3 linked regions of the Homo sapiens genome follow. The protein of the gene in region 3 interacts with the protein of the main gene of each other region in a pairwise test. Each region holds a gene or a part of one and is shown on either strand. Other genes may lie near its edges.

Region 1 (7,200 bases), on a different chromosome or scaffold from region 3:
CCCGCATTTGGGGCCAAGGGGGTTATTCAAAGTTTACGGTATTGCATTAAACATGGTGAAACATATGCAATGACTATGAAAGATCACTTTTTACTTCTGTACACAGTGTACTGGCGAGAACTGCTCACCAGGAGGTGATTAGCTTCACGTGGTGTTGGAAGCAGATACTCAACAGTTGAGCTCACGGAGAAAGCACAGGAGGTGGCTACGAAATTATTATAGGAGTACAGTATGTCTACAGTAAATATGCACTTATGACTTTAATACTGCACATCTTTATGTTTGCTTGCATTTCTCTTGACTTCAAATGGCATCAAATAGAGTTTGTGTTTGCGTGCATATATTTTTGATAAATTTTAACTTTTTTGTTTTGTTTTGTTTTTAGACAGAGTCTTGCTCTGTCTCCCAGGCTGGAGTGCAATGGTGTGATCTTGGCTCACTGCAACCTCCGCCTCCCAGGTTCAAGCAATTCTCCTGCCTCAGCCTCCCAAGTGGCTGGGATTACAGGCACCTACCACCACACCTGGCTAATTTTTTGTATTGTAAGTAGAGATGGGGTTTCACCATGTTGGCCAGGCCTGTCTCGAACCCCTGACCTCAGTTGACCCACCCGCTTCGGCCTCCCAAAGTGCTGGGATTACAGGCGTGAACCACGGTACCCTGCCAATTTTAACTTTCTATAAGAGATTTGCCCAGCCTGGGCAACATGGAGAAACCCTGTCTTTACCAAAAATACAAAAAATTTAGCTGGGCATGGTGGCGTGTGCCTGTAGTCCCAGGTACTTGGGAGGCTGAGGTGGAAGGATGGTTTCAGCCTGGGACGCAGAGGTTGCAGTGAGCCGAGATCATGTCATTGCACTCCAGCCTGGGTAATAGAGCCAGATCCTGTCTCAAAAAAAAAAAAAAAAAAAGCTTTGTATCCATTTTGGCATACATAGACTAGTATGTATGGCAGTAAATAGACTAGTGGCAGTAAATAGACTAGTACCTACATATATTTTTTGTATTCGTGGCATACTTAACTTTTGCTTAATTTTAAAAATATATTTCTAGGCTTGTAGTTCCTCTGTAAGTTTTTTCAAATTGTTGCAAATCTCTGAAAATGTTTCCAATGTATTTATTGAAAAAAATCCACAAGTAAGTGGACCTGCACAGTTCAAACCTGTGCTATTCAAAGGTCAACTATATAGTCTGTAATACGTGATGGGTGTCACGCTGAGTGTCTACAGTGAGTGTTGTCTCACTTCAGCTTCACACAACGCTGTGGTTTAGCCTTGCCACTGCCGTACGGATGAGCGGGTGTTCACTACACGAAGGTACTGGGCAGAGGAGCAAACACTGACTAAATTCTAGCCTGTGCTTTGCTCAACAAGCCACATGCCTGCCTTGCTTGCATCAAGGGAAGGAGTATTGTGTTCTAATTTGAAGAAATACACCAGCCACTCCTTAGGCAGCACTTGGTGCGGGATGGGCTCCTCTGGAAAGGGAGCACCTAATTTGCACAAAGGTGCTGCACCAGGTAGCTACGATCCTGGAATGGGATGAAGAAACTTGCCTAAGGCCCTACAGCAAGGAAGGGGTAAAAGCAGGATGTGATCCTTCCAAGCAGAACCCCCAAGAGCCAGGGGACATTTGGGAAACCTGGGGGTGTGGGGGTTAACCCTGTATTTGTGGTCCATTTCGCAAAGGATAGCATCCCACATCCATGAGAGGGAGGTCAGAAGGGAGTGGCTGTGGCTGTGAAGGAGACAGACACCTGGGCACCTGCTCTAAATTACAGCAATGCCATGCACATGATGATGTATTGGAGCACAACAAATGGCAGCCACCAGCTGGGGTGCACGCACCAATTTCTACAAATGAGCTCTGTTCAGGCTGAAATGTCTACGCATGCAAGGATTTTTCTTGTAATTGATGATATATCCCCAGCGCCCAGAAGACAGAGTGGCACGCAGTAGGTGCTCAGTAAATGTTCGCTCAATGAATGAATGAATGCCTCTACTAGCCTTCCAAAGAAAGTTCTATGTCTGTTTTATCAATATGGAAACAGGCCAGAGAAATTAAGTAACTTCTTTTGGAAGCCAGAAACAAGCCCGGCACTTGTGCAGTGACAACACCAGGGAATTTCAGTAAAAACCCAAACTCCACCCCAGGGAGCCCCAGTGCCTCCTCCCGCATCACAGGGTGCCAGGGCCCACTCTCTTTGACTCCTGCTCCATAGCCCCTGCTGGGTACTGGGCTGCTTCTCCCAGTTCCTCCTGCCTCCCCCCACTTAGGGCAAATCCAGTGCCTCCCTGGGGCCCAGGAGACTCAGTGTGATCCACCCCAGGCGCCTCTCACTCCTGTGAGACCCAAACCTCCTATCAGCTCCCCCAGCAGGCCAAGTCTGTGCACCCGTGACTCCCCTGCCCCAATGTTCCCTCCAGTGGCTCTTTGCCTCTTCAGTATCCACGTCTTCATGATCCTTCCCCTACTCCATCCCCCAAGCCCTCACCACCAAATGTAATGTAAACAGCATGACAGCAAAAACTTTTTGTTCACAACTGCGTGTTGTTTTTTTTTTTTTTTTTTTTTTTTAGACACAGTCTCACTCTGTTGCTCAGGATGGAGTGCAGTGACACAGTCATGGCTCACTGCAGCCTTGAATTCCTGGGCTCAAGCGATTCTTCCATTTCAGCTTCCCAAGTAGCTGGGACCAGAGGCACATGCCACTAAACCCAGCTAATTTCTTTTTTCTTTCTCTCTTTTTTTTTTTTTTTTCCCCTGTGGACATAGGGTCTCCTCATGTTGCCCAGGCTAGTCTCAAACAACCTGTGCTCAAGCAATCCTCCCACCTCAGCCTGCCAAAGTGCTAAAATTACGGACCTGAGCCACCGTACCCAGCCTACTGCTGCACTTTTAACAGCTTAATTGAGATATTATGTACATATCATCAAATTCACCAATGTTAAGTGTACAATTCAATGATTTTTAGTAAATTTACTGAGGTGTGAGTCCATTACCATCAGCTAGTTTTAGAACATTTTCATGACCCTAGTAAAGGATTTTACTTCATGTTCATTTAAACTTAATCTTGGGCCAGGCGGGGTGGCTCACGCCTATAATCTCAGCATTTTGGGAGGCTGGGGTGGACGGATCACCTGAGGTCAGTAGTTCGAGACCAGCCTGGCCAACATGGCGAAACCTCATCTCTACTAAACATACAAAAATTAGCCAGGCGTGGTGGCGGGCACCTGTAATCCTAGCTACTTAGGAAGCTGAGGCATGAGAATTTCTTGAACCCGGGAGGCAGAGTTTGCAGTGAGCCAAGATTGCACCATTGCACTCCAGCCTGGGCGACAACAAGACCCTGTCTCAAAAAAAAAAAAAAAAAAAAAAAAACAACTTAATCTTCATTTCTACCTCCATCCCCCAGACAACCACGAGTCTACTTTCTGACTCTATAACTTTGCCTATTCTGGACATATCATATAAATAAATGAAATCTGACAATATATGTACATGGTCTTTTACGTCTGGCTTGTTTCACTCAACATAAGGCTGTAGTGTGTATGGGTAGCTCATTCCTTTTCTTTGCCAAATAGAATTCCAGTATATGGATGTGCCACTTTTTTATTCACTCACCAGCTGATGGGCTGCCAGGTAACATTTCCACTGTTGGTGACTATGACCAACACTGCTGTGAACATTTAGGACTGAGTCTTTAAGTAGACCTGAGTTTCCACTTCTCTTAAGTAAATACCTACGGTGGAATTGTTGGATCGCATGGTGAATTTATGTTTAACTTTTTAAGCAACTGCCACCTGCTTTCCAAAGCAGGGACACCACCTCCCATTATTCTCACCAGCAGTGAATGAGGCCCCTATCTCTCTACATTCTCGCCGACCATAGGCATTGTCTGACTTTTTGCTTGTGGCCATTCTAGTGGATGTGAAATCATATCTCATTGTGCCCTGTGATTGTTTGAATGAACTAATAGATCACCTGTGAAACTGGACAGCACTTGGGTTTGAACCCTAGTGGTGACATTTCACAAGCTGTATCACCTGGAGCAAGTCACTTCCCTACGGTGAAGGACAAGGATTTTATGACATAAAAGCGTTGCCCTAGAAGCAGTGTCTGCTATGGATTATGTGCCCATGAAAAGGCAGCTGCTGTCATCATCGCCACCACCATTATTATTGTTATTATTATTACATTGTCACCCCAGAGATAATCCTGCACCAGTGACAGGGAAAATAGCAGCTGGCATCCGCTGCCTGCTCACGACCACACGCCAGGCTTCCGTCAAACCACTCAACATGTATTAGTAATCTTTTAATCGACCTACATATTGTTTTAATTTGCATGTGTTAATGCGTTGATCTATGAGATGGGTATTATGATGAGCTCTGTTCTGCAGGGGAGAAAGCAGAAACATGGAGAATTTAAGTCATTTCCCCCAAATCACAAAGTCAGGAAGAAACAGACCTCACGGAGCTCGCTCTCTGTCATTGCATCACACTTCCTGCCCTTACAAGGCAAATTGGATAAATGCCATTCTAGAGAAGCAGACAAAATTCAAGTGAAGAAGGGGAGAGGAAGACGTCGGCTGGGGCCTGCTTAGAGCATCCCAGCTGAGACTGCATGAGGAGGGAGGCACGCAGTTGTGGAATTTGTTCCCCTTTTAGCATGCTGACCAGCCCTGGCAACGGAGCTCAAGGCATCTATGTGCCACTGCTCAACAGTGAGTGACGTCATGGGCACGGCCAGGTCTTTATCAGTTCTGCCGGATAAATAGCCAACTGCACTAGGTCTGGAGAGACAGCAAGGTGCTGTGCGGCAGAGCATTTGGGGTCTCAAAGAAGCAGGTGAGCCTGGGCCCGAGGGGCTGGGTGGAGGAGCACCTTGGTGCTTCTCTGCTGGGGAAGGGACAGGGGACAGGGCATGCTCAGGAAGACAGGCAGGCTGACCCCGCCTGGAAGGCACCCAGAGACAAGAGGGGTGGGCGTAGTGACCTCGTGCCCTTTTAGGGGAGATGCTGCTGGCCAGAGGCCGTTAGGGCCCCCACTACCAACTCCATGTTACTCTCTCTCACCAGTGGCCACCACCATGGATACAGGCCCCGACCAGTCCTACTTCTCCGGCAATCACTGGTTCGTCTTCTCGGTGTACCTTCTCACTTTCCTGGTGGGGCTCCCCCTCAACCTGCTGGCCCTGGTGGTCTTCGTGGGCAAGCTGCAGCGCCGCCCGGTGGCCGTGGACGTGCTCCTGCTCAACCTGACCGCCTCGGACCTGCTCCTGCTGCTGTTCCTGCCTTTCCGCATGGTGGAGGCAGCCAATGGCATGCACTGGCCCCTGCCCTTCATCCTCTGCCCACTCTCTGGATTCATCTTCTTCACCACCATCTATCTCACCGCCCTCTTCCTGGCAGCTGTGAGCATTGAACGCTTCCTGAGTGTGGCCCACCCACTGTGGTACAAGACCCGGCCGAGGCTGGGGCAGGCAGGTCTGGTGAGTGTGGCCTGCTGGCTGTTGGCCTCTGCTCACTGCAGCGTGGTCTACGTCATAGAATTCTCAGGGGACATCTCCCACAGCCAGGGCACCAATGGGACCTGCTACCTGGAGTTCCGGAAGGACCAGCTAGCCATCCTCCTGCCCGTGCGGCTGGAGATGGCTGTGGTCCTCTTTGTGGTCCCGCTGATCATCACCAGCTACTGCTACAGCCGCCTGGTGTGGATCCTCGGCAGAGGGGGCAGCCACCGCCGGCAGAGGAGGGTGGCGGGGCTGTTGGCGGCCACGCTGCTCAACTTCCTTGTCTGCTTTGGGCCCTACAACGTGTCCCATGTCGTGGGCTATATCTGCGGTGAAAGCCCGGCGTGGAGGATCTACGTGACGCTTCTCAGCACCCTGAACTCCTGTGTCGACCCCTTTGTCTACTACTTCTCCTCCTCCGGGTTCCAAGCCGACTTTCATGAGCTGCTGAGGAGGTTGTGTGGGCTCTGGGGCCAGTGGCAGCAGGAGAGCAGCATGGAGCTGAAGGAGCAGAAGGGAGGGGAGGAGCAGAGAGCGGACCGACCAGCTGAAAGAAAGACCAGTGAACACTCACAGGGCTGTGGAACTGGTGGCCAGGTGGCCTGTGCTGAAAGCTAGGTCCTCCGGGGGAGGAGGGTGTAGCTGGCATGTCATCCTCAGGGCGCTTCCTCGCTCACGCCAGGAGGGACTTGGAGTGGCGAGCTGGGGCCCGATGGGGCTTGGGGGCAGAGTAGACATCTAGCCTCCCTAAGGGTATGCGCGCTAAAGCCCAGCTCTCGATCTCACCTCCATCCCCATCCACCCACACACTATGGATTGGGCTCTGGGAAGGGGTCAGGGTGAGAGGCTGCTCTGGAGAACAATGAGGTCCTCATAGCAGCAGGCAGCTCCTGTGTTTTCTTGAGGGTGGCAGAGGAGCTAAGAGCAGTGCCCAGGGTCTGAGGGGGCTGCCCAGTGAGTGGCAGGGGCAGGAGAGGGGAGAACCCCATCCTCAGAGCTGCTCCCAGCCAGCGAGTCAGGAGCGGGGGAGACAGGGCTCCAGGGATGAGGCCGCATTCTGCTCCCACAGCGCCTTTTCCAGAAAGTTCCCATTGCTCAATAAATGTGGATCATCAGAGACATTTATGAACAATGACAGAAGAAAAATTACCCAAATAAATGTGGAAGCAAGCAAAAGAGAACAGTGTTTCCTTCTTCTCCTGTTTTGTTCTGGTGGTGTGCTTGGGCCGGGTGGGACTGGTGGATGGAAGGAGAAAACACCAGACTCTGGAGGAAAAGGGCCAAACACCAGGATGCCTGGATGCTGGGAGAGGATCTGGCTTGCAGGGATGAAAATAACAGCTGCCCTGTCTAAAGGACTTGGCCTGACACATCATCTCCTTCTATCTCTCAATAGCCCTGTGAGAGGTACCAGCATTATCCCCAGTTTCAGATGAAGGAGTGGCCCAGAGAGGTGACACCTCCTACCTGAGATCCCATAGCTGGTGGGCGATTGAAGTGGGACCAGAAGCTGGTGTCAGTTGACTCTGACACCCATGCCCCTAAGCCACTCTGCTGTTCTCCATCTGTGTGTCACCTGTGGTCACCTGGCCCAGTCAAATGTCCCAAGTCAGATAAGTCTGTCTGAGCAGGACAAATATAAACAGGCCATGATAAGAAACAGAACTAAATGCAAAGCGTATTGAC
Region 2 (7,220 bases), on a different chromosome or scaffold from region 3:
TATGATAAGCATTTCATAGATATTAGCACTTATAATGATCTTTATTTATAAAAATCCTTAGGTCTTATTAGGGCCTTTTCCCAGTCCCTATGAGAACATGGGCAGTTGCTTAGGGTAACCAATTTTGGGAAAATTATTTTTTGGGGAATAGGTCATAGAAGAGGAGATATAGACAAGATAGGGCAAGTAAAGAAATGACACACTACCATTCCCATTTGTGAATTGCTGCTTCAGAGAAAACTGTTACTGAGGAAGGTGGGTCATATCTCCCAGGTATGTTGGGTTAGACAACACTGGAATAGTAGGACCAGAGGGGAAAGAGCTGGAAGACAAAGGAGTTGGAAGAAAGGTAAGAGGAATGCTTGTATGTTAAGTGTTTGTATTTTTGGCATGTTGTTTAATTTAGTTCACTGATGCTGACGTTTAGTCAAAGATAATCAAAGAAAGCAGTATGGAAGAGTATTTCAGACACCATGAAATAGTGGGAAAGGCCCTGGGCCTGGAATCAAGTTAACTGGGTTCTAATTTTTCAATCATGTGACTTAGACTAATGACCATCTTTTGGTTTCCAAGTTTTCTTTCTTGTAAAACGATGGTGCTAAATGATATTCAAAGCTATTCTAGTTCTAAAATTCAACAGTATAATTCTAAATATGAAAGTACATGTGGACTCTAGTTCTCCAGACTTCCTGAAGCCCTGCTACTCTTTTAGAAAAGGCTGCTGGTTTAGTTCTCTAACTTGTTTCCATAATATTGGAGCTGAAGTTGTGTGAACAGTGGTATCTCAAGCAGCATGCAAAAGCAGTTGGGAGGGTGGGAGTGCATGACAGTGAGTGGGTGAACGGATTAAAGAGAAAAGGGTTGGAAGAGAGGAGAGTGTGTGAAAGAGAAGAGCAGGCCTCCCTCCTTTGTCATTCTCCTGCTATAATCTCCAATAACAGCTATTCAGAGCCAAATACCAAAATGAAGGCATGAAAATGGCTTGGACTTTGAGTTAAATAGATCTGATTTTGAATCCAATCTCTGGAATCAAGTTTCTGTTTCCTTCTCTGTGTGATACTTTTGGTTGGCAGCTATTGTGAAGTTTAAATGAAATATTATTACCCAGCAGATAGAGGTGTTCAGTACAAATAGGCCTCCCCAAATTGGCTCAATCCTTTCCCCATCTTGCCCATAATATAAAAGACTAGCTAAAGAAACAAACATACAGGGCTGCTTAGCGATCTTTATCTAGAGCATGTAAATAACATGCAGTGGGGAAAGAAGGGTTCTAAGAAGAGGAAAAAGCTACAACCATGAAGCCCCTCCTTTGTGTAGCCTAACAATTCTCTGATTCCTGAAAGCCACAGAAATGTTTATTATCAAAACAGCATCCCTAACTGCCTTTCAACACTTTACCGACAGGAAGTCTCACTGCTCAGGTATAGGAAGTAGAACGAGGAAGCTCCCGAAGTTAGCAAAACTGGATCCTGAAGTGACACCCGCTTCCTGCTCTTCCACTCAGGAAAGCCGGGAACCTTTTCCCAAGCGGAGTCCTGGGGAAGCAGAAAACCGGGAAAGGCAAAGCCCCTTCTTCTCCTGTTTCTCTAGGTCGCTTGCTTAGAACCCTTTAGGGTTCTAACGCAGTTTCTGCTCGCAGGGAATGTGGGCCCTGGCGGTATTAGCACCCAGCCTCTGAGAACTTTCAGCACCGCGGACAGCGCCATTCCCTGCACTCAGTCGGAGGAGGAGAGCTACCTTGCCCCCAGCGCTCTCCTAGACCCTATACCTAGGGGGAGGCAGGGTGACATCCTGCGGCCCTTGGGCAATTCGGGCCAGTGACGTTCACCGACACTCAGGCGGGGATCCCTTCGCCAGAGCCAGTTCCTTTGAGTGTCTCCGCTCAAAATCTCAAGGAAACGAGCTTCACACAGGTGGGGGGATGAGGAGTGCCAGAACAGGAGCGAGCCCCGCTGCTCTAGCCTTCCTGCATCTCTTCTCGCCTTTGCTTTGCTCACTCTTCAATCGCAATATAAAATACTCATTTGGGGAGGGGGCAGGGTGACACAGGAGAGAGAAGGAGGGTGGGGGCTGCATCCCGCGTGGCCACGCAGCCCTAACCTGGCCCTCTTGGATTAGAGGGGAGCTGATGTGCTTTGGAATGGGAGAAGAGAGGAGACTGAGGGTTGAAGCAGTGCAGGAGAGCTCCCCTTGCTGGGGCTGCCGGCTCTGGGCAGGGAGCTTCCCTGGACACCGCTCCCGTCACGTCCTCTTCGCCGCTCCCGGGAGAGTCACCACTCTCCGGGGACAGACGCCCCTCGGGGCGCCACCATCCTGGTCGGGGTGCTGGGCTCGGCGGGAGTCCCTTTGAGGAGTTTGCTCCCAGGTAAAAGGGCAGACGTTGCTCCCGACCTCCCCGGAGTCTGCGGCCGGAAAAGCGTCTCCGTTTCATGGTCTCGGTCCGAGGCGGAGAACGGAGCTGCCCGTGCGGGGTGCGCGCCAAGGCGGGGGACAGGACGGGCCCGGCGTCTGCCGAGACCTAGGCTGCCCGCATTCCGCTCGCGGCTCCCCTTCTGCCTCCCGCTCTAGCGGCGCCGGAGCCGCGCTGGCCCCCGCCCCGCCCGGCAGCTCCCGCGAGTCAGAGCCCGGTGCCCCCAGACCGCGGGCAGTCGGGGCCTCATTCCGGGCCAGAGCAGGAAAGAGCCCGACCCACCTCCTCGGTTCTTCCAGGGAACCCCTTCTCGGAGGGCGCCCTGGGCCTCCGCGCCATATTCCTGGTCCCCCGCTCCCGGTGACTCCGGCTCCCTGGGTCATTCCGGGAGAGGCGGCCATCCCAGTTGCAGGGGTCCCGCTGGGGCGCGGGGGGCGCGGAGGGGGACAAACGGCAGCGAAGGGGGCCGTTCACTTACCGGGGTCGGGGCTGGAGGCGACGAGCTGGCTGCCAAGGCTGGTGGCTGGCAGTCCGCACTTACTGCGCGGAGCTGTCTCTCTAGCTGGGATGGGAAGTGGTGGTGGCGGCAAAGGAAGGCAGGAGGCAGCCGCTGCTGCTGAACAGCTCCTCAATTATTCAGATTGGGCCCCCACCCCCCGAACCCCTCCCCGTGCCTGCTCGTCCTCCCTCCAGCTCGCCTGTCTCCGCCTCCTTGGAGTCACATGGCCTGCCCAACCCCTTACATACTGGGCCCAAGCCTGGCACCAGACCACCTCCCACCTGGCCCCCCTGCCTTCCCCTCTGTCTGCCGCTCACAACTCCTCGCTGGCCTTCTGAGCCTCCAGTTGTGACCTCCAGTGTCTTATGTCAGGCTGCAGGGAGGTTGAGGGGGCCGTGGATGGGGGCAGTTCTTTGCCCTGGGAAAGCAGGGACCAGCAGGACTCTGCAATGTCTGTGCGTTGGGAAGGCATCTGCCGCAGCTCTGCCCCTGCTAGACTGGGCTGTCCAGACCTCCTTCCTGCCCTCTGGAAGCTTCCCTCATCCTCTGCGGAGCCTTCGTTGCTCTTAAACTTCCACATCCCTGAGCCCTACAGGAAAGAAAAAATGAGAGAGGTTGATTTCTCCTCTCCTCCTAAAGAAGACAAGACCCACCTCTGTCTTCAAAGCTTAAGTTTATCGTTGGGTTCACAACATCTTATGGGTGCAAAGATCATGGACTTGAGATTTGAAGAGCCATTAGGATTCCAATCTGTATGACCTTGGAGCATTTAACTTTCTAGCTTTTCTTCTCTCGTCTGTGAAATAACCACCTTGCAGTATTGTCATGAGATTGAGAAATCATCATGTTCTTAGAATTGCCTAGCCTAGAGTTGGACAGGTATTTGGAGCTCAATAAAGGAGAGTTCTTTTTCCCCCACCTTTGTTAAAATAAATTTCACAAGGCAAGAAGGATGTGATGTGTGCTAATACAGTGAAAGCATCTTTTAAACATGGAAGGAGGCATCTGTGAGGTCAGGCTAGACAAGTACCAGTCTAAACGGAGACAAGAGTGAGATAAGGTTTCTGTTTTGTATTAGCTCCTTTAAGATGAGTGTCCTAGAGCCAGGTTATGTCCCAAAAGGATTGGGACTAGATGGGACCAACCCAGGCATGCTTGGCCACATCACCGAATGAATTATTTAACAAGCATTGAGTAGACTGATTTGGATGAAAGTTATCTACATAAATTCTTGCACTTTGGCCCAAGCCCTCAAAACACATGGGAGGCAACAAAATGTAACTCTCCTATCCTTGGAAATGAATTCACTGGGCTTGTGTTTGGGGAGAATACTGGCTGACTGATACTCCTCTAGGGTGGAGCAGTTCAAATCTAGCTCTACTTTGTGGGTCTGCCCTGGGCTCTTCCCAGAAAGTTGCTTGATCATTGCCAGGACAGTCTTGGTTAGTCCACCTACCTCAAGCTTGTTACTGCCTTCGATGAGCATCTAAGCCTGACAATATCCCCATATTTTAAGCTTTGAGTAGTTCTGCAGGATATGTTAGACCTCCTGGGATCACCAAGAAGCTGTGAGACATTGTAGGAAAAGTGCAAAGTTAAAAAATCAGAAATTTGGAATCTCAGTGCAGGTTCTGCCAGCTACTTATCATATGATTTTTCACAAATCACTTAAATTGTCAGACTCTCATCTTCAGAATGGGAAAGGAATGTCTACCTGCCTTCTATATAAGATGGTTGTGATGTTTAGATGGGATAGCACATGAGAAGTCACTGTAAAAGGTAAAGAGTATGAATACTATGGGCTGAAGAAAACCCTGAGTCTATTCTAGTCCAAATGAATTATGAGGGTGATAAGATGGGAAGATGGGATTTGTCATGGAATATGCAGCTACTAAAATGTTGGTGTGTTGCTCTAAGTCTGCATGTATGCCTGTAGCTCAGGGGATGTGATTATTGGAGAACTGCATTCTTTGTTTCACCTTTTTCTGGATAAATTTCTGATTTAAATCTCCATATTTCCCTGGCCTTTTATTTCTGGAACACCAGCCACAATCACAATAGTTATGAATATTTACTATCTGAGAAAAGTTTGTGCCTATATTTCAAGACAGCAGGGTTTAGACTTTTCTGCCTTTGCTAGGTAAAATTGACTTGGGTTGGTAATTCAAAATGGCTTCGATTTCAAAGAAAAAAAATTTGGATTCTAGGAACAAACTCTAGACATTCATCAGCAGCTTGAATGATGATATGTGTTTCTAGTCCACTGCCAATAAACTCAATGAAATCCTCACACAAACCAGGAACTCCTGGAACCCTCCAACCTTAAGCAGATTCCAATCCTATCTCCTGGTGTACTTCCCCTTAATATTCTTTGGAAATTGCTAATCTGGACCTCTTTGTATTTAGGGAGACTAAAAGACCAGAAAGTGTCAACCATGCTTCTATATATACCACTGAAAAAATTGTCTGGGCTAGGTAAAATGCTGCTTCTGACTCCTGCCTACCTCTCCACTGACATCAAGAAACATGAGAAAGGGAAAAATAAGCATGAAATCATTTAATTTGGCCATGATGCCTTTATGAGCAGTTACCTGGACAAGCATAAATTTCAGAAAATTTTGAACAGTTTCACCAGAAATTGCTCAAGGACTCTGAATATATATTTTTTCAAAGCAGTTTTAAATGTCCAAGGCAACTTTACCCAGTGAAGAGCAGAAAAGGAAACTTAGAGAACCGATCTTGCATAGATTGCAGTAGAAAGTTATACCTTAGCAATGATTTCTTGTAAAGGTTTCCCTTGGGTCCTCCCTTACTTATAAGCTCTTGTCTTTTGCATGATGATTGTTGACTTTATCATAAGCCACTGCAAACACTTTCCAGCTGTAAGTAGAGCATTAATGAACAAAGAAATATAAATGCAGCAGACAAAAATTTAATTATTTAGAGCCATGCACAGCCGCAACAATTGGTGAAGTTCCAGAGTTCAACAATGATCTTACAAAGTGACTACTAACTAGATCTTTAAAGTACACATCCTTGTTTTCTTGTTCCTACAGTTGAAATGTGGAAGTGTTGATTCATGTATTCAACATATTCTAGACACTTAGGATACAGCCATGAACAATACAGAAATGGTTCTGCTCTCCTTGAGCTTACAGTCTAGAGCAGGGGGTCAGACCACAAACAAGTAAACAAAGCAGTGGAGATAAGTATCATGATGGAAATACAACAGAACAATATAATGAAGAGTAAAGGGGCACCACTTAAGTGATAGAGAACTAACATAAGCAAATGTGGGGCTCAGAGACAAAAGCGATTACTCTCCAGGGAAGCAGCAGAGCACTCTTATCTAGGGCCTTTTGCCAAAATAGGGTCATTAAAAGGGTAACGACTAAAATCCCTCATGACTGACCTGCTTGAATGGATGGTGGTTAAGCCATGAGGGAATTGGCCAGATGCCTTAAAAACAATTCTCCATTTTTGTCTCATGATTCATGAAAATGAGTACCTGATGCTTTCTTCTAGAAGGACCCCAAGCTCATCAGTGCCCCTGACTCTTGCCTCTGAGCAGATTCAAAACCTGAGAAACCAAAGACACTGTGATAGCCTGGCTAGAGGCTCGTCTGGAACTTTCCAAAGGGAGCAGTACCTTTGAGCAGCAGGAAGACAGAAAATAAGACACACAACCAGAACCTAGCATTACCATAGGCACACCATAAAGATCTATTAAACAAACAACCTGCTGCTAGGATCCTACCAATTGGACTGGAAATTTATAAGCAAATTATCTATGAGTAAATTATCCTCTAGGTATTTAAATTTCAAAAGGAAGAAGGAGGATGCTGACCTAAGCATGCTCATTTTATTCCTAAATTTACAATAGAATATAGCACTTTCCCCACTCCTACCCCATGCAGAGTAAATAAAGTTGCCTAATCAGTGAAACTATGGAGTCAAGACAGAGGTCAGGACTGTCAAACCAATGGAGTTCCTTGACATGGAAGGAATCGTTAAAGCAAACAGTTCTTCCCATTTATTATGTGTTTCCTTCCTTTAATTACATTCACTTTCCTAAATTAATTTATTTTAAAGAGGTTTTCATCACTACCTTAAATAGAAAACTGATATCAGTTGCCATAAATACAAGGCAACTATTTAAACAAACACAATGAGAATAAAACAATGCTATTATAGTCAAGATAAATACCTTTGCCTTCCCAGGAACCGAAGGCTTGCTTTCTCCTTGTTAAAAAGGAAATTAGCAGCTGTTAGTGAGGTGTTAAAGACATTGACATCAAACTGTCTTTCTCC
Region 3 (7,785 bases):
AAGGCTTCTGGACATTTCCTTGAGACCGCCTGTCACTGACTCACTTCGTTCCCATGGTGCCCGCAGCTCTGCGGACCTCGGAGGGCTGCCCTGAACACCTACAGTTAACGAGGGGGATCCAGTGCTGACCAAAAGAAAAACCCCTGCCCTCACCTGGGGAGAGAGCCACAGGCTCTATCTAGTGTCAGCTGTGAAGGCCAGGGGACGAGGGACTGCGGCGGCTGAGAGTCGAGGGAAGGCCCCTGAGGAGGGGGACCGGTGAGGAGACCGCTGAGCGCTAGGAGGGTGAACCCCGGCAGGACTGGGCGGCCTTGTGACCCCGAGGCTGAGTAGGGAGTGGGGTAGGAGGTGAAGACCGGATCCAGTCCCGCCCCAGGGGGAGGGCTCGTTCCTTCGCAGCCACTCTCACGCCGCCACTAGGAAGCCCGCCCCGGGCTGCCCGGACTCGGGCTGGGCCCCTCCAGGCTCCGTAGCCCGCGGTGCGCCACCCCCGCGGACCCAGAGAACGCAGCCCGGGTCTCGGTCACTAGAACTTTAATGATAGAGACTAGGATGCGGAAGCGAGCGCCCCTCCCCGGGGCAGCTGGAGGCTCCGGCTCTTCTTTCCCGGCTCCGTCGGCCCGGGGGCCTTGGTCTCAGGCCCACGGCAGCAGCGTCCGGAGCCGTCCGAGGAGCGCGGCGCGCAGCGCGGCCGGGAGGAAGTGGGCGAGCAGGCCGAGCGCAGCCAGCGCCACCAGCAGCCAGAGGGCGCGCGCGCTCGCGTACAGCGGTGCCAGCCTGCGGGCGGCGGTCAGCGGGGAGGTGGCGCGAGGAGGCCCGCTTCTTCCCCGCCGCAACCCTGGCCCCACGGGGACTTCCTCTGGCCGCCGCCAGGGCTCGCCCACCGAATCCCCAAAGGCGCTGGGCTCCGGCCCGTCGCCCGCCCCCAGCTTCGGTCCCGCTCCCCAGGAGCCCCGCCCGCCCGCGATCTTTCCCCGGCCCCGCCCCGCTCCCCGCCCGGCCCTCACCTGAGCTGCGCGGAGCGCGCGTAGCCCTGGAAGTAGCGGAGGCGCGCGAACAGGTAGACCAGGCCGCACAGGGCCGCCGCCCCTGCGAGAGGTACGCACGGGCCTGGTGAGCGCCCTGCGCGGGTCCCGGGGGTCCAGCGCGTGCGCCCCTGCCCCACACCCCGACCTTCATGAAAGAAGATGCCGGCGACCCAGAGCGTGGCGAGGAACAGCGGGAAGTACTCGCTGCAGTTCACCCTGCGGTGGGCGGGTGGGATGAGCGCGCCGGCCGGGATGGTCCTGCGACCCGGACCCGCCTGGGGCTCGCTCCCCGCCCCGCGCCCTCCCGCCGCGCCTCACTGGGCTCGGTAGACGCGCTCGAACTCGGGTGGGCCGGTGGTGAGCGGCGGCGACACGCGGAAGGCCCTGCGCGCCGAGATCACCTGCAGGGAGAAGTAGGCTGGGGGAGGAGGGGGAGCGGGAGTCAGGTCTGGACACCCGAAGCCCCAGAGATGGGAGTGGGAGGGATCCTGCAATCTGGCCCTTCACTTGGCCGTGTCCTCTCCTCCCTAAGGCGGAACCCCGCCCCCTCCCCGCCCGAGGAGACCTCTCGTCTCACCCATCCCTGGCCTGCCCTGTGTCCCTGACATTCAGCGAGGAGGGCAGGGCTGAAGCCTGGGGCGCAGAGAGGCCCTGTCCCAACCTGTGAGTGTATGGGGGAGGGTGAGTGATTCAGGCACAGGGACACCTGCTCCGCGAGAGAGACCACTTGAGTCCTTGTTTCTGAATCATTTCACTCTCAAAACACAGGCAAATGCAGCTTTCAGGTCCCTGGCCAGGAAGTGCCTCGGGAGTCTGAGGGCAGAGCTGGCTGCATCCTCCCAGGTGCAAGGAAGCACACTCCCTGTAGCTAACAGTCCCTGGTCACCCACCTACCAGCGCCCACCAGCAGGGCCCTCTGACCCTGCCTCAGGCCGGGATCACTAAAGCCTGCGTCCCTGTGCCTCCAAACCTCAGTTTCTCTGTTCCTGCATTCCGGTCCCAGGCCTAAATCTGACAGACACCTTCTCTCCTGCTCCCAGGAGGTTGCAGCTGGGACTCTCCTAGCCTAACCCCAGGACCCCAGGGCTGGGGTAGTTGCAGAGGGTGGGCTGGCCCTAAAGTTTCTCTGTGGGCAGGAGCCCTTCTCTTGGTCAGGTGAGGCCAGGCCAGACCACACACAGACCAGTGCTGGCTGTGCGCTCCCTCCCCAGACCTCCCGTCGGACCATCTCCCCCTGAGTCCTGCAGCCCTGGCACCTTTGGTTCTGGGCCCTCTGCAGATGGGTGTCACAGGGTGGCCATCCAGCTCAGTGCAGGAGCAGCTGGAGGTCAGGCTGGCCTGTCTGTTCAGCCCCTTCAGAGCCCCCTCCCCAGGCTGTGCCTTATCCTAGCCCACACACTGTGGAGTAGTGGTGTCTCTTAGGTGGCAAGGATATCTGGCCAAGGAATGTGTCCTTTAGGGCCAGTCTGAGAAAGGCATTAAGCAGGCTCTTTTTAGGGGGCTGGAGGAAGGAGTCCCACCTCTACCCTGCTCCACGTGGTCCCAGTATGGAGGTGCCTTTGAAGCAGAGCCAGGGAATGGGGGCCGCTTGCTGGGACGCCCAGAGAGGGGACAGCTGGAAAGAGCAGAGATCAGCTTCCCCAAGCCCATGGCTATCCTACCATTTGTCCTGGCACCCTTGCCACCCCCAAGTCCTACAGCTCTCACAGCCAGGTGCCCCCCAGTTCCCTGAAAGTCCCCACCCTCTTCCAGCTTGGGCCTGGGCTGGAGTCCCCACCTCTGCCCTCCACCTGGGCCTAGGGGGCAGAGGGCAAGCTGTAGGGATCTAAGGCCCACCCTCTTCCTAGATAGGAACCAGCCCACCTTGCAGCAGGACTCCCAGGAGGGTGACAGCAGCCAGTAGAGCTACCTCGTCCTTCATGGTACCGTCGGTGTGGTGGCACGGGCTGTGTGTGAAGGCGAGCTGGGGAACGCTTAGCCCCGTCTGCTGCTCAGAGGACGGCCCAGGAGAGGAAGAGCAGCCTCGGTGCTCTCCCCGCCCCATCTCAGTGGAGGGGGTGCACGGGGGTGTGACCATACCACACAGAGCCAGGGAGCCAGGCCAAGCCAGCAGGGAGGAAACCAAAGTCTGGGCAGGGGAGAGCAGCTAGCTGGAGACCGCCTCACCACTTCCTGCTTGTTCGTGCCCCTTCCTTGCCTAGTCCCGCGTGGCAGAGCCCAAGCTGTCCATCTGGGTCAGCTCCAGCTGTGGGTGTGCCCCCTGCTGCACCACCCCACTTTCTCCAGGGCCTTGCAGACCCCCACATCATGCTGGAGCCAGCCCCAGGCTCCCGGCTAACTCCTCCACCCACCTTATCTGTTCCCTGTCCCCATCCAGGCTGTTCCTGGCAACCCCTGCCAAACCCTCCTCTGCGGAAGCCCTTCCCAGTGCCTTTGGCTTCAGAATGGAGTCCCAGCGCCCCCCCAGCCACACTGGGCCCCACAAGCTCTTTCTCCTTCAGGAAACCTCATGCCTGCCAGCCTTAGTCGTTGTAGGGGTTCCATGCACAAGGGCCACCCTGCCAGGAGGAAACCTGTCCAAGGCCCCCTGGGTGGCGGGAGGGTCAGCCCTTGTGGGCCATCCCTCTCCCAGGCCTCTCTTGGGCCTCCCACAACAGTCACCTGCTGTGTCTTTCTGCCCCGCAGCCCTCTTGCCTCAAGGTAACAACCCTCCACCACCTTCCTAGACGGCTGCCCTCCCCACACTCAGGCCCTGTGGTCTGGACAGTGCTGACTCCTGCCCCTTCCAGGCCTGTGAGATGGACACTGAGCCAAGGCTGACTCAAGATGGTGAGATGTAGTTCTGGAAACTTCCTTAGGACTTTGGGACAGGAAACTCAGAGTGGGGAGGGGGACTACGGCGGGCCACCCTGAGGACAGAGCCCACGCAGGGCCAGGTGGAGAGGAAAGGTGGCACCCGAGGACTCCTGCCTGGAGTTCTGGGTGTCTCCCTCGCCCCGCCTGGAGCGCCCCCGGCCGCCCCCCTCGCCCTGCCTGGAGTGCCCCTGGCCGCCAGCCTTCCCAGTTGGGCCTAACGGTCACTTCCTCTTTTGGCTTGAGTGGGTTTGCGGTGGCTTTTGGTCAGAAGTGGCAAAGTCCAGACTGACCCAGAAGCACGGGCAGGAGCTGGGGGAGGCCACAGGCCGTGCTGCAGGGGTCGGGCCGCATGGTTCTGCCCTCGCACCTGGTCCTTCCTTGCTGCCCCAAGCTCAGCTCCAGCCTGAGGCTCGGAGCCTGTTGGGCTCTCTCAGAATCCCTTCTTCCTCCTCTGGGTATCGCCCCTGCCCCCGGAAACCAGATATGCCCCAGCTGGGGGCTCTGTGAGCTCCTCCAGGGCAGGGGCCAGGGCTCAGGCCCGGCCCCTGCTTTAGACCAAGCTGTGACAGTCATCTTGGGGCTCAGTGATGGAGGACTGCCTCCTAGATCCCGGACACAGATGTAGTGCCAGGGAGCGATGGTGGCCGCGTCCTCAGACTCTGCCCACTCAGCCTCCTTCCTCCCTGAAACCTGCCCCACAGGGCCTGCCTGAAGGGTGGGATGCAGCCCACCACGCAGGGGTTGACGCTGGTGCCAGTGGGCTGTGCCCAGGGTGTCTGTGTGCACCACGCATACATACCTGCATGCCCCTTGGTCAGTTGTCACACACCCATGTCTCTGTGCTTGTGGGTGTCCAAGTGTCTTCGTGAGTCCAGGCCCTCCTGTCAGCCAAGCTCTCATTTCCTCCAAGGCCTGAATGTCCTCCCGTCGGAGTTCATCCCCTCAGTCCACAGCAGGAAGCCAAAGCCTAACATCAGCAGCTTCTGAGGAAGTCCCTTGGCAGATGTGCAGGGCAGGGACCTGGGTCTTGGCCCCGGGAGCCCTCCCCGGGTCTCTTGGTTCCCACCTCCCTCCCTCTGAGCCTGCCCAGGCTGTCAGGGCCCTGCCTGGGCTCAAGCCAGCTCAAGCTGACAGGAGGGCCAGCCAAGCCCCCACCCCTGCTCGGGCCACCCAGCTTCCATCTTCCTGTCTAGCTCTGGAGGCACCAGCATCAGGAGGGAAGCGAAAGCTCCTCCCTGAGCCTCCACAGAGCCCTAAGGAGTCTCTGATGCCCACTCACCAGGACCTCTGGGCGGCAGAAAGGCCGGCAGAACCATTGCACAGAGAAGAAATCAGAACTTCTGTGGAGTGGATCATAGGCAGTGCACAACTCAGACCCTGAGCTTGAACAAGAAAGTTTATTTAGAAATTATTTTATATTTGAGACAGGATCGTGCTCTGTTGCCCAGGCTGGAGTGCAGTGGCTCAACATGCCTCACTGCATCCTCAAACTCCCGGGCTCAAGCAATCCTCCCACCTCAAGCCTCTCAAGTAGCTGGGACCACAGGCTCTAATTTTTTTTTTTTTTTTCCAGAGATGGAGTCTTGCTATGTTGCAGGCTGGTCTCAAACTCCTGGGCTGAAGTGATCCTCTGCCTCAGCCTCCCAAAGTGCTGGGATTACAGGCATGAGCCACCATGCTTGGCTGAAATTATTTTAGACTTACAAAAAAGTTGCAAAAATCTACAGTCTCGGCCAGGCGCGGTGGCTCATGCCTGTAATCCCAACACTTTAGGAGGCTAAGGTGGGCGGATTACCTGAAGTTAGGAGTTTGAGGTCAGCCTGGCCAACATGGTGAAACCCCATCTCTACTAAAAATACAAAAATTAGTCAGGCGTGGTAGCAGGCACCTATAATCCCAGCCACTTGGGAGGCTGAGAGAGGAGAATTGCTTGAACCCAGGAGGCAGAGGATGCAGTGAGCCAAGATCACACCTGAGCGACGGAGCGAGACTGTGTCTCAAAAAAAAAAAAAAAAAAAAAAAAAAAAAAAAAAAAAAAAAAAAAACTTGTATAACCAAAATTCAGTTATAAACCAAGAGATTTCCATTGATACAAGTTAGTAATCAAGTATTTTACGGATCTTATTCAAGTTTCACCAACTGTCCTACTGGAATAGTACAAAGACCTCAAAAACTTTATGCTAAATTGTGCCAGGCTGGGCATGGTGGCTAACGCCTGTAATCCCAGCACTTTGGGAGGCCGAGGTTGTGGACCACCTGAGGTCGGGAGTTCAAGACCAGCCTGACCAACATGGAGAAACCCTGTCTCTACTAAAAATACAAAATTAGCCGGGCATGGTGGTGCATGCCTGTAATCCCAGCTACTCCGGAGGCTGAGGCAGGAGAATTGCTTGAACCCAGGAGACAGAGGTTGCAGTGAGCCAAGATCGCGCCATTGCACTCCAGCCTGGGCAACAAGAGCGAAACTCCGTCTCCAACAAAAAAAAAAAAGAAAAGAAAAGAAAAAAAAAAAAAGGCACAGAGAGGGCCAGGCGCGGTGGCTCACGCCTGTACTCCCAGCACGAGGTGGGCAGGTCACGAGGTCAGGAGATCGAGACCATCCTGGCTAACACGGTGAAACGCCGTCTATACTAAAAAATACAAAAAATTAGCCGGGGGTGGCGGTGGACGCCTGTAGTCCCAGCTACTCTGGAGGCTGAGGCAGGAGAATGACGTGAACCAGGGAGGCGGAGCTTGCAGTCAGCCGAGATCGCGCCACTGCACTCCAGCCTGGGCAACAGAGCTAGACTCCGTCTCAAAAATAAAAAAATAGAAAAATTAAACCATAGACTTAGAGAAAACATTTGTGAATCATATATATGATTAAAAAAATACTTTGAATTCAAAATATATAAAAACTCTCAAAACTGGATAGTAAGAAGACAGTTTCCTGAGTAAATGGGTGCAGATCCCTGTAGGGCAGAGATCACCTGCTGTACAGCTGAGAACTGATTCAGTCTGGAAGTGGCCTGGGATCGTGAGAACCTGAGTCTTTACTGGGGCAGCTGGCCTGGCTTCTCTCTGCTTCTCTGTTCTTCTTCTTTTCTTTCTTTCTTTCTTTCTTTTTTTTTTTTTTTGAGACAGAGTCTAGCTCTGTCGCCCAGGCTGGAGTGCAGTGGCGCCATCTCGGCTCACTGCAAGCTCCGCCTCCCAGGTTCACGCCATTCTCCTGCCTCAGCCTCCCGAGTAGCTGGGACTACAGGCGCCCGCCACCACGCCTGGCTAATTTTTTGGTATTTTTAGTAGAGACGGGGTTTCACTGTGTTAGCCAGGGTGGTCTCGATCTTCTGACCTTGTGATCCACCCGCCTTGGCCTCCCAAAGTGCTGGGATTACAGGCGTGAGCCACTGCACCCAGCTTTTCTTTTCTTTTTGAGATAGGGTCTTACTCTGTTGCCCAGGCTGGAGTGCAATGGCGTGATCTCAGCTCACTGCAACCTCCGCCTCCTGGGTTCAAGCAATTCTCCTGCCTCAGCCTCCTGTGTAGCTGGAATTACAGGCGTGCACCACCATGCCCAGTGTATTAGTCCGTTTTCACGCTGCTGATAAAGATATACCCAAGACGGGGCAATTTAACAAAAGAAAGAGGTTTATTGGACTTTGGGGAGGCCTCACAATCATGGCAGAAGGCAAGGAGGAGCAAGTCACATCTTACGTGGATGGCAGCAGGCAAAGAGAGAGGAGCTTGTGCAGGGACACTCCCTTTTTTTTAAATTTTTTTATTTTTATTTTTGGTTTTGTTTTTCGAGATGGAGTTTCGCTCTTGTTGCCCAGGCTGGAGTGCAGTGGTGTGATCTCAGCTCACTGCAACCTCCGCCTCCCAGGTTCAAGCGATTCTCCTGCCTCAGCCTCCCGAGTAACTG

The links.
Region 1: the proteins of LTC4S (region 3) and FFAR3 interact in binary tests that used the Homo sapiens proteins (3 or more experiments, as listed by UniProt).
Region 2: the proteins of LTC4S (region 3) and SLC7A14 interact in binary tests that used the Homo sapiens proteins (3 or more experiments, as listed by UniProt).

Annotation. Positions count from the first base shown.
Region 1 is NC_000019.10:35,353,800-35,360,999, forward strand, and holds FFAR3 (free fatty acid receptor 3), read left to right. Parts: upstream 1-4,726; 5' UTR 4,727-4,850; intron 4,851-5,080; coding exon of another isoform or gene 5,081-5,091; coding exon 5,092-6,132; 3' UTR 6,133-6,690; downstream 6,691-7,200. UniProt on the Homo sapiens protein: G protein-coupled receptor that is activated by a major product of dietary fiber digestion, the short chain fatty acids (SCFAs), and that plays a role in the regulation of whole-body energy homeostasis and in intestinal immunity.
Region 2 is NC_000003.12:170,583,023-170,590,242, forward strand, and holds the start of SLC7A14 (solute carrier family 7 member 14), read right to left. Parts: upstream 3,054-7,220; 5' UTR 2,889-3,053; intron 1-2,888. UniProt on the Homo sapiens protein: Imports 4-aminobutanoate (GABA) into lysosomes. May act as a GABA sensor that regulates mTORC2-dependent INS signaling and gluconeogenesis. The transport mechanism and substrate selectivity remain to be elucidated.
Region 3 is NC_000005.10:179,789,245-179,797,029, reverse strand, and holds LTC4S (leukotriene C4 synthase), read right to left. Parts: upstream 3,045-7,785; 5' UTR 2,950-3,044; coding exon 2,892-2,949; intron 1,447-2,891; coding exon 1,347-1,446; intron 1,245-1,346; coding exon 1,174-1,244; intron 1,090-1,173; coding exon 1,008-1,089; intron 778-1,007; coding exon 636-777; 3' UTR 383-635; downstream 1-382.